Homo sapiens: one gene and its partner. The protein of the gene in region 2 interacts with the protein of the main gene of each other region in a pairwise test. Each region holds a gene or a part of one and is shown on either strand. Other genes may lie near its edges.

Region 1 (8,681 bases), on a different chromosome or scaffold from region 2:
AGGCAGATGTTGCAGTGAGCCAAGATCGAACCACTGCACTCCAGCCTGGGTGACAGAGCGAGACTCTGTCTCAAAAAAAAAAAAAAAAAAGCCATCCATATGGCCATGACTCCTGGCTTTATCCGTCCTGACCTAGCCTAAGCTAGTCGACAATGTCCAGCCATCCATTTCTGGAATTTACTTTATTGTCATTTATCCGCTTGTTTATTTTAGACTTCTCAACGTTAATAATTATCTTACATACTTCCCAACCTATTTATTCCTTGGTCAATCCCTTCTTAGGAAATGGCATCATTCTTCCCAGAGATACCCAAGTTAAAAATCTAGAAGCTGGCTGGGTGCAGTGGCTCATGCCTGTAATCCCAGCACTTTGGTAGGCCGAGGCGGGCAGATCACTGGAGGTCAAGAGTTTGAGACCAGCCTGGAAAACATGGCAAAACCCCATCTCTACTAAAAATACAAAAATTAGCCAGGCGTGGTGGCACACGCCTGTAATCCCAGCTACTTGGAAGGCTGAGACGGGAATCTCTTGAACCTGGGAGGCAGAGGTTGCAGTAAGCCGAGATTGCACCACTGCACTCCAGCCTGGGTGACAGAGCGAGACTGTCTTAAAAAAAATAAAAAATCTAGAAGTCATCTGTGATTCCTCCCTTTCTTTTATTCTTCACCTCCAACCCATAAGTCAGTAATATCTTCAGGACACAGGCTGAACCCATCCACTTCTCACCATCTCTGCTGTGAACCCCTCGGCTGAGCACTCCTCATGCCTCCCTGCCTCTCACAGTGGAAAGACATTCTGGTGAGGGGGATGGTATGTGCAAAGTCCAGAAGAGGCACACCGGGAGCAGGGGTGTCAGCGCAGCAAACATGAAGACAGCATAAGAGTGCAGGGAAATTAGGTTGAGACCAGACCACGAAGAGACTGGAAGCCATGTAGAGAGCCAATACCACAAGAAAAGTGAAGTTTAGGGGCTCAGCATGGCAGCACAGGTCAGATGGAGTGGAGGGGTAGGGAGGGTGTGGAGTGGGGAAGCAGCAAGAGGCTGGATTTGAGGTTCTGAGGTCACGGTGCTGAGGTAGAGGGTGGGGTAGAAATGGAAAAGATGAGCAGACACTAGCAGCATTTAGAGAAAAAGATCATCAGAACGTGGAATATGGAGGAGACAGAAGAAAAAAGAATGAAAAGTGCTTCTTGGAGAAGAATGAGGGCTGAAGGAGAGAGCTGGGACAGTGATTTGCTGGGGGAACTGGGCAGAGTTCTGGGGAAGAGTAGGGGTCTTTCATGGGGTCCCACGCCTGGGTCACAGAGAGAACCAAGACCTTCATGAACTGGCTTCTGTGGTTCTGAGACTGATGGCCGGGAAGGGAGTGGGAGGTCAAAGGTTTTCAAGGGCCCTTTTCCCAGGAGGCCAGTGCTGTGTCGGGGGATGGGGTCTCACCTGCCTGCGCTCCGTCCTGTCCAGGTCGTGGATGAACTGTAAAGTACAGGAAAAGGCTGGTGAGACCTGCCCTGACCCTCTGCCACCTGCCCCTCTCCTCCTGGGTATGGCTCACCCATCACCCACCTTCATAATGGGCTGCGATCGCTCTTCGAGCCCGTGTTTTCCGGCCTTTAGGTGCTGAGGATCAAGGAAAGACAGATGAGCAAAGCGGGCCCTAGTGGGGGTCCCAGAGCAACTCTCCCAGCCCCATTCCCCTCTCAGGAACCCTGGCATCCTTATTCTTGTCCAGACTCCTGGCCTTAGAATCTCAGGCCTCATCTTCCTCAGTAAGTAGAGTGACTATAATTTGTCATCCACACTGGGATACTGCTGAGAGCAAAACGGGAAGCTGCTATTAATCACACCGAGATAACAGGTGGGGGCCAGGACAACTGCATGCCGACTTGGACACGTGGTCATCCGGCCACCCCATCATCCCATTCCTAAGTCTCTTTGCCTACCGGGGCCCAGGCCTCTGACTGCCAGGCCTAGTCTCCATCAGGATCCCAGTAGTTCTTCTAACTCATGGCCACCCTGCCTTCCTGTTTGGGGTAGGGTCTGAAGGAGCACATCCATATGACAGAAGGAGCTTCAGAGGAGGGCGAGAATCCCTAGGTTTGAGTCTTGGCTGGTTAGCTGCATGACTCTGAACTCCTTTCACCCTCCGTGCCTCAGTTTCTCCCTGTGGATAATGGTTTTTGCTCTGCCCGCTTCCTGAGGTTGGGATAGAGGGATGCTCACCACTTCTGCGAGGCCGAACTAGTCGGTTCAGGAAAGGCGCAGGATCCTGGCTTTCTTCTGTCTGGGGATTCAGTTCCTAGGGGAATTAGGGCAGGGTTCAACCACAGACTCCCAGAGATATAAAGTGAGACATACGGGGCCTGTCAGGAGAGCCACCAGCCAGCAATAGACACAGAAGTCAGGGACAGATTAAGCCCCTCAGCCAACTACAGCTGGGGCCCCGGGCAAAGGTGAAGCTGGGAGTCAGGCCCCAGTCCTCACCCTTTCCTCTAGACCAGCTACACTTTCCCACCCACACACACAACCAACGCAGACCCTGCATTCAATTGGCACATTGCACACATGCCCGCACCCAGTCACCACGCACAGAGGATACACACCCTGTACACAACCGCACCCCTCTTCCACGCAGACTCACATATCTTATACAACCACGTCACCCCCAGCCAATAAACACCTCAGACTCAGGTGGCACAACCCCAGCACAAACCCCTCACACAGAGTTGTCACCACGCACACACACCCCTGCAGACACGCACCCATGCACGCACTGTGTTCACACACACCCTGCACACACCTCGAGTACGGCTGGCACAGCTGCACACACCTGCAGCCTCGGCTGTGCACACTTCCCATGCCCCAGCAGCCTGCAGACCGCGCCCACGCCCACTCACCGACGGGTCCTGGTCCTCCTCTGCCACCAGCTCCTCCTGGGCAGGCTCCTGCTGGGAAGGAGGGAGCGTCACCCTGTGCCGCTCCACCTGACATCTCACCCTCCACCCATCCTCCCTTCCCCTTGCCTTCAGCCCACGCGGCCCCCAGCGGCCCCTCTGCAGTCTCAGCTCCTGATGTGCCCAAGAAGGGGTGCGCAGCGGGGCCTCACCTGGGCGGACAGCGATGCCCGGCTCCCCAAACTGACCACGGCCAGCAGGAGGCCGAGGCAGGCCAGCGCCAGGCCCAGGCCCAGCGCGAGCGGGACCAGCAGGGCGGTGCCCGGCTCCCCCCGGCGCCCCCTCCGCCTCTGGCTCCGACGGGCGGCCATGGGGGCGGGGGGCTGTGCCTGCCTCACCGCCCCCCCATCCCGGGACCCGAGGGATCGGGGGAGGGGGAGCCGGCGGGCGGATCGGGCCGGGGAGAGGGAGGGGCAAGGGAAACGGGGCGGGAGGGGGCGCTGGGGACAGGAAGCCGGACGCTGTGTGTGATCAAACTCCGAGCCTCTCGCCGGGCGCTGTGCGCGCAGCGAACGGAGTGGGCGCCCACCCGACCTCTGAGCGCCCAGCCCGGGCGTGCACCACCAGGGCGAGGTCCGTTGCGTGCGGCCGCGGGAGCGACGGGGCTATGCGTGTGCGGGCACCTCCTGCGGGGAGGTGGGGAACTCAGGAAGGCCTGTTGGTTCAGATTCTTCTGTGTCCCTGTGTCTTCAGAGATAAGGACCCTCCTTTCCCCCAGGTGCAGGGAGGGCGCCTCTCGCAGGAGGCTGTTATTTGCTTCTTCAGGAAAAGGGCAGGGAGTTCCAGGTTGTATGACCTGGTTCAGGGAAGAAGGGCAGGAGAAGGTAAGAAAGATCCTTCGGCTTCTGCGGTTTTCTCAAATTCCTTCAGCTTAAAACACTCACTGTGCCGGTAGCACGTTCTGAAGCCCATCATTACCAATGATTGCCAAGCATCTGAGGAGGACCAGCAGCATGCAAAAGAAACACCAAAATTGGTCCGGCAGGTGGCTTACGCCTGTAATCCCAGAAGGCCAAGGCTGGGGGCCAGGAGTTCAAGATCAGCCTGGGCAAGAGCAAGACCCCATCTCTACAGAAAAGTTTTAAAAAATTAGCCCACGCCTGTAGTCCCAGCTACTCAGGAGGCCGAGGTAGGAGGATTGTTTGAGCCCAGGAGTTTGAGGCTGCAGTGAGCTGTGATTGCACCACTACACTCCAGCCTGGGCAACAGACCTTGTCTCAAAAAGAAAGAAAGAAAGGAAGAAAGAAAGAAAGGAGGGAGGGAGGGAGGGAGGGAAGGAGGGAAGGAAGGAAGGAAGGAAGGAAGGAAGGAAGGAAGGAAGGAAGGACCAAAATTGGCTGGGCGCGATGGTTCACGCCTGTAATCGCAGCACTTTGGGAGGCTGAGGCGGGTGGATCACGAGGTCAGGAGATCGAGACCTGCCTGGCCAAGATGGTGAAACCCTGTCTCTAATAAAAATACAAAAAAATTAGCCGGACGTGGTGGCAGGCGCCTGTAGTTCCCAGCTACTCGGGAAGCTGAGGCAGAGAATTGCTTGAACCCAGGAGACAGAGGTTGCAGAGAGCTGAGATCACGCCACCACACTCCAGCCTGGGCAACACAGCAAGACCCTATCTCAAAAAAAAAAAAAAAGAAAGAAAGACCAAAATTAACAAACAAAATTTGACATTGGAGGAAACAGAGATAATTCAGGATACAAAGAGTACTACCTAATATACTTAAAGAGAGTCAAGAAAAAGCATCCATAGAGCTGGGCATGGTGGTGCATGCCTGTAGTCCCAGCTACTCAGGAGGTTGAGATGGGAGGATCACCTGAGCCTGGGAGGTTGAGGCTGCAGTGAGCTGTGATCACACCACTGCATTCCAACACGAGCAACAGAGTAAGACCCTGTCAAAAAAAAAAAAAAAAAAAAGAGTATGCAAAGAAAGAAAAGCAGTTAGAATCTCCAGAAAATTTTCAAAACTGAAATCACAATGTAAATAAGAAACAGCTGGGGCCAGTTGTGGTGGCTCACGCCTGTAATCCCAGCACTTTGGGAGGCCAAGGTCGGTGGATCACAAGGTCAGGAGTTCAAGACTAGCCTGGCCAAGATGGTGAAACCCTGTCTCTACTAAAAAAACAAAAATTAGCTGGGCACGGTGGCGGGCACCTGTAATCTCAGCTACTCGGGAGGCTGAGGCAGAGAATTGCTTGAACCCGGGAGGTGGAGGTTGCAATGAGCCGAGATCGCATGACTGCACTCCAGCCTGGGCGACAGAGCAAGACTCCATCTCAAAAAAAAAAAAAAAAAAAAAAAAAAAAGCAACAAAACAGGCTGGGCATCATGGTGTGCACCTGTAGTCCCAGCTACTGGGGAAACTGAGGCAGGAGGATCGCTTGAGCCCAGGAATTCCAGGTTGCCATGAGCTATGATCTGGGCACTGAACTCCAGCTTGGGCTGCAGAGGAAGACCCTGTCTCAAAAAAAAAAAAAGATAATAAATAAATAATAAAATAAAAATAAATAAATACGGGCAGGGCATCATGGCTCACGCCTGTAACCCTAGAGCTTTGAGAGGTTGAGACGAGAGGATCTCTTGAGGCCAGGAGTTCAAGACCAGCCTGGGCAAAATAGTGAGAACCCCTTTCCATCTCTACAAAAAATACAAGAAAAATTATCCAGGTGCGATGGCATGCTCCTGTAGTCCCAGCTACTGTGGAGGCTAAGTCAGGAGGATCACTTGATCCCAGGAGTTTGAGGTTGCAGTGAGCTATGATCACCCCATTGAACCGAAGCCTCGGCAGCAGAGTGAGACCCTGTCTCTATAAAAAATAAAATAAATAGGCCGGGCACAGTGGCTCATGCCTGTAATCCCAGCACTTTGGGAGGCCAAGGTGGGTGGATCACCTGAGGTCAGGAGTTCGAGACCAGCCTGGCCAACATGTAGTGAAACACCATCTCTACTAAAAAATACAAAAATTAGCTGGGCATGGTGGTGCACGCCTGAAGTTCCAGCTACTTGGGAAGCTGAGGCAGGAGAACTGCTTGAAATAAAATAAATAGGCCGGGCGCAGTGGCTCATGCCTGTAATCCCAGCACTTTGGGAGGCCAAGGCAGGTGGATCACGAGATCAAGAGTTTGAGACCAGCCTGGCCAACATGGTGAAACCCTGTCTCTACTAAAAATACAAAAATTAGCCGGGCATGGTGGCGCACGCCTGTAATCCCAGCTACTCGAGAGGCTGAGGCAGGAGAATCACTTGAACCTGGGAGGCAGAGGTCGCAGTGAGGCGAGATTGTGCCACTGCACTCCAGCCTGGGCGACAGAGTGAGAGTTCATCTCTCAGAAAAATAAAAATAAAAAATAAAATAAAATAAATGAAACACAAGCTATAACACAACATAATTGTATTTAATTGATACAGTATCAATTTAGGGCCTTAGTGCTTGCTTGCCACATTGTCCTTTGAGTGACACATGGATTATGGGATGGAGTGTGTGGAGAAGCAAGTGTAATTCCAGCCCATTGTTTGGCCTGAGGGTAAACAACGTTCATGTGGCCATAATAATGTAAATATCTTTGACTGGATTTCAACTTTTAGAGTCAACCTGTAGAAAAATCCAGAAGACTTAATGGCAGCAAAGACTGCAAATGCCCACAATTTTCACTTTTTTTTTTTTTTTTTTTTTTTTTTTTGAGACGGAGTCTCGCTCTGTCACCCAGGCTGGAGTACAGTGGCACAATCTTGGCTCACTGCAACCTCTCCCTCCCAGGTTCAAGTGATTCTCCTGCCTCAGCCTCCTAAGTAGCTGGGATTACAGGCGTGCACCACCATGCCTGGCTAATTTTTGCATTTTTAGTAGAGACAGGGTTTCACCATGTTGGCCAGGCTGGTCTCAAACTCTTGATCTCGTGATCCACCCGCCCTGGCCTCCCAAAGTGCTGGGATTACAGGCATAAGCCACCGCGCCCGGCCTATTTTTTTTTAAGATGGAGTTTCACTCTCATCACTCAGGCTGGAGCGCAATGGTGTGATCTCAGCCCACTGCAACCTCTGCCTCCCGGGTTCAAGCGATTCTCCTGTCTCAGCCTCCTGAGTAGCTGGGATTACAGGCACCCACCACCATGCCAGGCTAATTTTTGTATTTTTGGAAGAGACGGGGTTTCACCATGTTGGTCAGGCTGGTGTCGAACTCCCAACCTCAGGTGATTCACCCGCCTCAGCTTCCCAAAGTGCTGGGATTACAGGCGTGAGCCACTGCACCCAGCCTCTACTTGATTTTTATTATCAGGTGAATGCAGCATTTTAATTTGTAAAAAGAAAAAAATTGTACAGCAGCAAGCGTGCTGAGGAGAGGGAAAGTCATTACTCATCTCAGCCAGCGTGTGATCACACCTGCTAAAGGAAAAAAACAGGGACTGGAGCCTTGGAGACAGCAGATCATCCTCAGATCCTTTAACTTTGGCTTGAAAAATTAATTCAATACACTTAACCTTTTTGTTCTTGGTTTGCGGCCAAAGTTAAAATTAACTTGCATTTTTTAGGACACTGATAGGAAGTAACTTGGGAAACATGCAGGAAAAATACTGAAAGGAAATCTGCTAATATTTTTTATTCCTGCCTTTTTACACTTTTCTTACTTTTCACATTTTCAACCAAGATACTAAAGGAAAAAAAGGCTTTGTCATTTTCTTTTTTGTTTTTCTTTTTGGATATCCAGCTTGATTAGTATCACTTAAATGCAAGGCCATGCCTGGTGGTCACGCCTGTAATCCCAGCATTTTGGGAGGCTGAAGCGTGCAGATCACTTGAGGTCAGGAGTTTGAGACCAGCCTGGCCAACATGGTGAAACCCCGTCTCTACTAAAAATACAAAAATTATCCGGGTGTGGTGACGCATGTCTGTAATCCCCCTTACTCAGGAGACTGAGGCAGGAGAATAGCTTGAACCCAAGAGGCGGAGGTTGCAGTGAGCCGAGATCCCAGCTACTTGGGAGGCTGAGGCAGGAGAATCGCCTGATCCCAGGAGGCAGAGGTCGCAGTGATCTGAGATCGTGCAATTGCACTTTAGCCTGGGTGACAAGAGTGAAACTCCGTCTCAAAAAAAAATCACTTAAATGCAAATAAAGAATTTCACGTAGTCTGTAAGGGTAGGGACTGTGTATGCTTTGCAGGCATTGTATTTCCAGGGTCAGCAAAAGTTTGTTGAATGAATAAATATGGCCTAGCCTTCCCAGTCTGGCAGTGACTACTGAATATGGTGATAGTAGCAGCCTGAGAGTGGACAGTGACCATCCCAGTTTGCCGGGACTAAGGAGGTTCCCAGGATGAGGTACTTTCAATGCTAAAACCAGGACAGTTCTGGAAAAACCAGGATGAGTTGCTAACAGACCCAAGAGAGGACTAAATGCCACCCCCAAGCCACCACCACACTCACTTTTGGTCAAAATTCTTAAGCTTTATTTAAGCTTTAATCAGTCAATCAAACAACTCAAATCCCTGTCCTGGGCTTCTTTCTCTTTCCACTTCTACCTGCCACCTCCGTCTTCCCTAGATGTATGTCTGTCTGTATTTATCTGTTTGTTTGTTTGTTTAGTTATTTATTTATGTGAGACAGGGTCCTGTTATGTTGCCTAGGCTGGTCTCAAATTCCTGGGATCAAGGGATCCTCCTGTCTCAGCCTCCCAAGTAGCTGGGTTTACAGGCGTGTGCCATCATCCTGGGCTCTTCCCCAGACTTTACCTACCT
Region 2 (7,000 bases):
ATATTTTTAAAAAAGTTTTTCAAACTTCTCAAGAAAAAAAGAAAAAATATCCCCACCCCATTTATTATTCTATATACCCAGCAAAGAAAAAAGATTACTTCTAACTTTAAACAACCTTAACAAAGAATTAGAAATAGTCAATAAAAGTATGAAAAAAATTCAAATTCACTCGTAATCAAAGAACTATACTTTAAAACAGTTCTACTCCCTAGCTGCTTGGCAAGCATTCAATAGTACTAATTGGTCTGGTGCTGGCACGGGTGTATGCTGCTTTGGGGAGCAGAAATCGCTGTTGTAGGGAAATAGGGAAATTATATTTGAAAGATTTTTTCCTCCAAGTTCCCTCTTCATTAAGCCACTAGATATGTGTTCACTATAACCGAGTATCTGACATAGCATGTATGCAAATTAATAAAAGAAAATCATGCATCAAAAGCCTTTGAAAAGTTCACAATTCTTTGATGCAGCAATTGCATCTCTAAGAACTTATTTTAAGGAGGTAACTAGATACATAAGCGTATTTATCACCTCCATGGTTATTAAACATCCTAACCAAAAACTACTTAATTACTCGGCCATAAAGAAGCGTTTAAATCAATCAGCCACGTGTTGACTAGCGTGTGGCCCCTGAGCATCACGATACCCATCAATACACGGAAAGTCAGCCACAATATATTATACGTGAAAAGAACAGGTGACAGTATCCTATACATAACAGAATTCCATTTTACATTTTAGATATGTTTATATCTATACACATCCACAATTCCTCCCAAAATGTTAATATTGGTTATTTCCGAGGTAGCATAATCAGGCAAATTTAACTAATTTTCTTCTTATTTACTTGTACTAACTTTTCTAAAATCAACACAAATCATTTGTGAAAAAAATAAAGAGAAAGTGGGAAAATACTAATTTCTAATAGGTTGTTTAGCCATACAAAGTTACATATAATACATTTATACTGCTGATTACTTAAAAAAACAGACTTATTGTTCATATTTATGGTTTTGAGATAGAAAGGAATTTTAAAACTTACCAAGTTTAATTCTCTCTTTTTACAGCTGAGGAAACGGAGGCCCAGAGAGGTAAAGAGACTTTCTTAAGATCAAATAGTAAGTTAGAAATGCCAGACCATGACATTTCCAATCAGTTCTTGTAACTTCTATACATATGTTTATATAAACAAAGGGAAGGAAAAGAATGAACAAAAACTAACAAAACCAATATGCCCCACTGGCATCCAAAGAGAGCTTAAATCTAATTTTAACTAATTCCTCAAATTTCAAGCTTAGCTATTTCTAAAGAATGAGACTAGGTAACACTTGGAAGTCTACGAGCTGGTCCCGCCTTCTCGCCTCACAGCCTGCCACGCTCCAGCTCAGGCTGTTCATCTTGGACAAGAGCACAGAGGCGCGTTAAAGTAAGAGCAGGGCCTACTGACTCCTCCAGTGCACATCTGGGCAGCTGGCAGGGCGTGAACTCGGCTCTGCGGCTAGACTTCAAACCTACTCTTAATTTTTGTCATAGAAAGTCACTACTCCCCAACAAAGGTTTGGTGCAATTAAAAAGGGGAAGGTACAAATTAAAGCAATGACAACTAAAACAGCTACTAGTATTAAGGTTGTATTTCCTGACTCCTTATAAGAAAATCTACAAAAATAAGAAAATCAAAGGAAATGAAATGGGAAGAGGAGGAAATGAGAGTCTCTCTGGGGGACACAGGTATGCAGATGAATGTTAAGAGACTGGAAAGATCTAAGCAATATCCTTTCCTACAAAAATTCGAAATAGCTCACAAACACATTAGAATTAGCTCTGTCACCAGACAGCCTTTGGCTGAACTTACAATAGAAGCCTCCCAAATTCCAATGGTCAAAAATTTAGAAGTTTGTTTTTTAAATTAGATTTTCCCACTTCAAGTAGAAGCAGAATGTATATTTATGATGCTTCCCTGAGATATTAGCAAATATTTCTGATCCATTTAAAAAAGGAAGGATAAGCTACACTGGGCTTTTACTAAAGCTAAACCTGCCTTGGGGTCCGGCAGTGGAGGCCACTTCTTTGGCATGCCTCAATGCTGGAAGCCCTCATGAAGGCGTGGGAAGGGTACCTAACTGAAAGGCCTGGTTCCTTCTCTTCACCTGAATGACCACACAGCCCACAGTGGGGGCAGACAAGTTCAAGAGGCCTACCTGCAAACTGCAGTTCACTCGTGCTCCCACAGAACACAGCACACTGGGTCCCACACCCCTGACCTCCTGCTGTCCCTTTAGACCACTATGCCGTCAGAACTCTGAAACTACAGAGACTCCTAGTTAGACCACTTTTTTCAACATCGTTTTGAACAGCACTAACCTCAGAATCCATTCCTTGCATTTCATTCTTCTCAAGCTGAAACTGCACAAAGTCATCAATGACATGGAAGAGCTCAGGAGAGACAGCTTTGAAGTACTTGTGGTAGTCGTACTTTACAGCCAGCGATGCAAAGATGGTGTTGTTGACCAGGGCAGACCGCAGGTCTGTCAGGACCCCCGGGGAGTGCTGCCGCGGGTCTTCATAAAGGTGCTTGGTTATGAGGTAGTCCAAAATCGCATCTCCCAGGAATTCTAAGCGCTGGTAACAATCTGAGGGGATCCGAAGTGGAACCGTAAGCTTGTGCAGAAGCATTTACACTATCCCCACATAGCAACTGATCCCCAAATCCGAAGAAGATTTGTATTTACAATCATTTTCATACATATATTCTTCAAAAAGGATATCTGACATATCATACTAAAAAGCCTCTGGAAACTAAATTTTAATGACAAATTAAGTACATTTCTTATATAAACTGGGGTCATAAAATCTTCAAGTGGTCAAAAGACTAACGCTTGTTAAGAAGGAAAAACAAAACCTCACAGGTGCTATCATGATCACTGAATGCTTTTCTCTGGCACTGTGCTGTCTGGGCAGGTGCTGGGGCCTTCCTCTCGAGTCTCCCTCACACATCATCACTTAAGTGAAACCAGGGCCGCACACACCTCTCCATGTGGCTACACTGTGCTGCCATCGCTAAAGTCTCATTCACACTCTGGAATCTGTGCATAAGTGATACCATTCCTCACTATTCCTGGGCTATTTTTGTTACACAGGATGACAGGAAAAGAAGACCCTCTTCTTAACTTGAGCTATTATAGAAATGAATTTACCACAAACCAAGAGATTGAGAAAGAAGAGTTGTGAAAGGGAGCAAAGGCAGGTAAACTGGTTGTCAAAATGTGAAAATGATCAATGTTAAATCAACACCTCTATTTTCTCACAGTGATTAAAATAATATATCCAGCTGAGGAAACTGAGGCAGGGACCGATGGTGACTTGTCCCAGAATAAGCAAGGAATTAAGAAGCAGGGACTGCTAGGCGAGAACCCAGGTCTCGGAACTTCCAGCAGAATGTAGTCGAAAGCCACGTATCATTTTTCCTCCATAACGAAAATTAGGCTTTAGTTTCATCAGTCTTTCCAGTCCAGAGTCAGATAGTTTTTCACTTTTTGGTTTTTACATTTTGCTGATCACCTTAACCTACGCTGCTTTTATTATATAAACTACAAACTTTATACTTTGCTTTGGTGTTCTGAATTCAGGCACTTATTTTTCTGATACAGAAATTGAAATGTAAACTTCAGCTGTGTTTCACAGCCTGAAGCTGATTTGGGTGTGAGGGGCTTGTTCTCCCTTCTAATCTAATGGGTTGACAGTCTATTAAAAGAGGGGCAAATACAGAGCACAGTGAGAAGTAGAAGATGACAGCAGAGTCACAGCAAGGGCCACGCAACCTTCTTGTGAAATCATTGCTTTTAATCTTTTAATCTATCCATCTTTAAAAAGACCCTAAAGGAGGGGTCTTTTTGTCCAGGAAGAACAATAAAAGGCTGTGGAAATACATCCAGAATATACAACTAAATCAAAAACCAAAAGCAGCACTGAATGGGCAAGAGAAAGATATTTGCGGAGGATAAAATGGGGAAAACACATCAAAATACTAAGGTTAAAATTTCTCTAATTAGGCAGATATAAAATGACACTGATGAGGGTATATGATAGCCATACTCCCAACAACCAAAGTTATAAAGCAATACGTGCTCCCCAAATAACAAGGAAAAGAATTCTTTCTATTCCTTTTGTTCCCCGCCCCATCCCTTGAATATTAAGCATGAACACTGTACATGCATAGATCACTTTTACAAGGCCAACACGATGAGATCAACACAAAGTCTCATTTTCCCAGAAATGAAGTCTGGTCGTGGGCTCCTTACCAGTGATAGTATTGTAGTGGTAGGAGGCATGTGTAAAAGCCTGGAGAAGGTAAGCCTTATTCTTGAATCTGTAGTTGATTTTCTTTTCAAAATTTTCAAACCCCGATATAAGGTGATTCAGTGTTTTATCTGCATCTGGATGATCAAACATACATCTTGGTGGAATCTTCAAACAACCATATTCCGAGTCTTTCAATACAGAAGAGCGTGAACTGGCCACAGAAGCAGCAGCACAGCTCACTGAAAGGTTCTTTTGTTGGCTGTTGAAATTCTCCCGAGTAGGGCACAGGGCCTTTTCCCGATCAGTCCTTTTAATTACCGGGAGCACCTTCAGCCCCAGTGAACAGAGGAAAAGCTGAGCAGCCCTCTCCCCACAGCTGGTTAAATAGCAGCCCAGCAGGGCTTCCACACAGTCCGCTATGCTTTTGTCAGCAATACACTGCTCAGTGTGCAAGTCGTAAGAAATGGACTGCTTTCCCGTGTCAACACCACAGTTTTCTTCTGATGGATTCCAGAACCCCACCACAAAGTCATCTTCTTCAACAGCTTTGCTAGGATCCAGATAGCACATTGCATCCCAAGAGCTGTAGTCAAAATCCTCAAAATCTGATGAAAATGGCATACTACCTAAGGAGGATTTTTTGGGCATTTTCCATTCATATGCAGAATCAGTGGTTGAAAAAGGAGAAAGAGAGATTTTCTTTACAAAAGCTCCTGACCCCATTAACATATTATCTATAAATCTGATATGTTCCTGATCATACTCCAGGAAATCATCTTCATAGTCAGCCTCTTCCTTCGGAGCCCTCCACATCAGGCTCTCCTCCTCCTCATCCTCCTCCTCGTAATCCTCATCCAGTTTGCCATTCGCCAGCATGCAGTCTTTTGTCTGAAACGAGGGGGAATGGGGAAGGAGGGGAAACATAGCTGCTGTTTTTAAAAGGGTTTGAAACTCAATAAAAGCAAGGGTTATGGATAATTTCAAATGACAACCACAAATACTAAAAGGCAACTTTAAAATCATGGCCATTTGTTTTCAATTAACATAAAATAAGTTATTTAATCATATAAACAAAGTAAAACATGTTCTTTGAATGTTCGTTTTCTAAGTTATAAAATGACCTTTATCCAGTATGAAGCTTTAAGTTAAGGACTTTGAACATGGATATAAAGTTAAAATTAATGTCCACAATGCAAAACTTCAACTAAGTCGTCTAACTCTGGTAGGACACACAATGAAAGCACTCATATGCTGATCACACAGATCTTCAATTTTGCTGACAAAATTTGAAAATGTGGTAATTTGATTTTCAAAAAGATTTTCAAACTAATAAAACGAAATTCCAGATGTAGAAAAGCATTACCTTTGCAATTAAGAATATAATATAAAAACAGATAAAATCATTTTTTAAAATGTACAATAGGATTTTATAATAAAGCTTTTTGTCCCTATTTCCACTTCAAAGTATACTTGCCACAAAAAAACTACACTGCTTTCCTTAAAAAATAAAAGTGATCACTGCACTAAGCTATGAATTTGAGAAGTTACGTTTTTTCCCTCCACTCTGAACTACGGTAATCAGGGGAACAGATTATAGCATAACTGACAAAAATGGAAGAAAATTTAGACTAACATGAAACACAACAATCCAATTTCTGTCAAAAGATCTTTGCTAATTCCAATTTCTTTGGCAAAAGCTTATTTGTGAGTGACAACCTTAATAATGGGCTAGATTTCAGTAATGATGTAACTTCTTTGCAATCCTAGAAAGATGCCAAATTTCTGTTATGCAAGTTTTTAAAAAACCAAAAAACTTGTGAAGGGGGAAGACGAAGGGTGTGCATCAATGTTGATTGTAACAACTTTCCAGTGTTCTGACAAAAAAAAGTTGCAACCTTCAAGCATTTTTTAAATACTACAAATATTTTAAACTAGACTCAAGATATAAACACTACATTTGTCTGAAAAGAAATAGCAGTAAGCCAAGCCATATCTCTAACTATTTATCTTTTCATTTTTTTAATTAAGAAAGAAACACCTTTTCAAGAATAAGGAACACCAAAAGCAACTGTAGCGGCAGACCTCAAGGAACATTTCCTGCTAACAATCTTAGACTTTCCAAGGCAACATGAAGATGTTTTTGATTGGTCCTTAAGAAAAAGAGGGCCAAACTGCGATTTTTAAAAAATCAGACAATATTTTTTTTTTATTGAAAAAAACCTTCTGTATCTTTAGAAAGGTGCCACCATAAGCCAAAAGTGGCAGAGCACAAAAATCACAAAGGGCTGACTTTTATCACAAACTGTGTGATCCTGGGCAAAGCCTTTTAGTGCCTCTGGGTTTCAGATGCTTCATCTACAAAAGAGTGGGGTTCTGTCTCATAAAATGTTTTTCAAGAGCACTTCAAGCCTTTTAAGAAAAAACAGCCACATGAAATCCTTTTCTATATCATTCAAGTCAACTTTGATACTCTCGTCTATTAAGAGGCGTTTTAGCATGCAAAGGTTTCCACTTAAGCCCATTTGCTGAAGGGCCAGAGCAAGGTAGGGAGAATGGCAATGCAACCAGCCAAAACCACAGTGTATCTTTTCAATATAATGCAAGGGCCTATATTTCAATAAAAGTAACTTACTAAATAAAAATCTGAACAGTATTTCTAATGAATTCCAATAACCAAAGTGCCATCAGAAACATTAAGAAAAAT

What was found.
Region 1: the proteins of DICER1 (region 2) and TNFSF12 interact in binary tests that used the Homo sapiens proteins (3 or more experiments, as listed by UniProt).

Annotation. Positions count from the first base shown.
Region 1 is NC_000017.11:7,543,737-7,552,417, reverse strand, and holds the start of TNFSF12 (tumor necrosis factor ligand superfamily member 12 proprotein), read right to left. Parts: upstream 3,361-8,681; 5' UTR 3,265-3,360; coding exon 3,106-3,264; intron 2,945-3,105; coding exon 2,897-2,944; intron 2,299-2,896; coding exon 2,223-2,298; intron 1,620-2,222; coding exon 1,566-1,619; intron 1,476-1,565; coding exon 1,440-1,475; intron 1-1,439. Other genes in the region: TNFSF12-TNFSF13 protein, read right to left, coding at 1,440-1,475, 1,566-1,619, 2,223-2,298, 2,897-2,944, 3,106-3,264. UniProt on the Homo sapiens protein: Binds to FN14 and possibly also to TNRFSF12/APO3. Weak inducer of apoptosis in some cell types. Mediates NF-kappa-B activation. Promotes angiogenesis and the proliferation of endothelial cells. Also involved in induction of inflammatory cytokines.
Region 2 is NC_000014.9:95,091,530-95,098,529, forward strand, and holds part of DICER1 (endoribonuclease Dicer), read right to left. Parts: intron 5,185-7,000; coding exon 4,296-5,184; coding exon of another isoform or gene 4,243-4,295; exon of another isoform or gene 3,817-4,242; intron 2,628-3,816; coding exon 2,359-2,627; intron 1,166-2,358; exon of another isoform or gene 1,040-1,165; intron 1-1,039. UniProt on the Homo sapiens protein: Double-stranded RNA (dsRNA) endoribonuclease playing a central role in short dsRNA-mediated post-transcriptional gene silencing.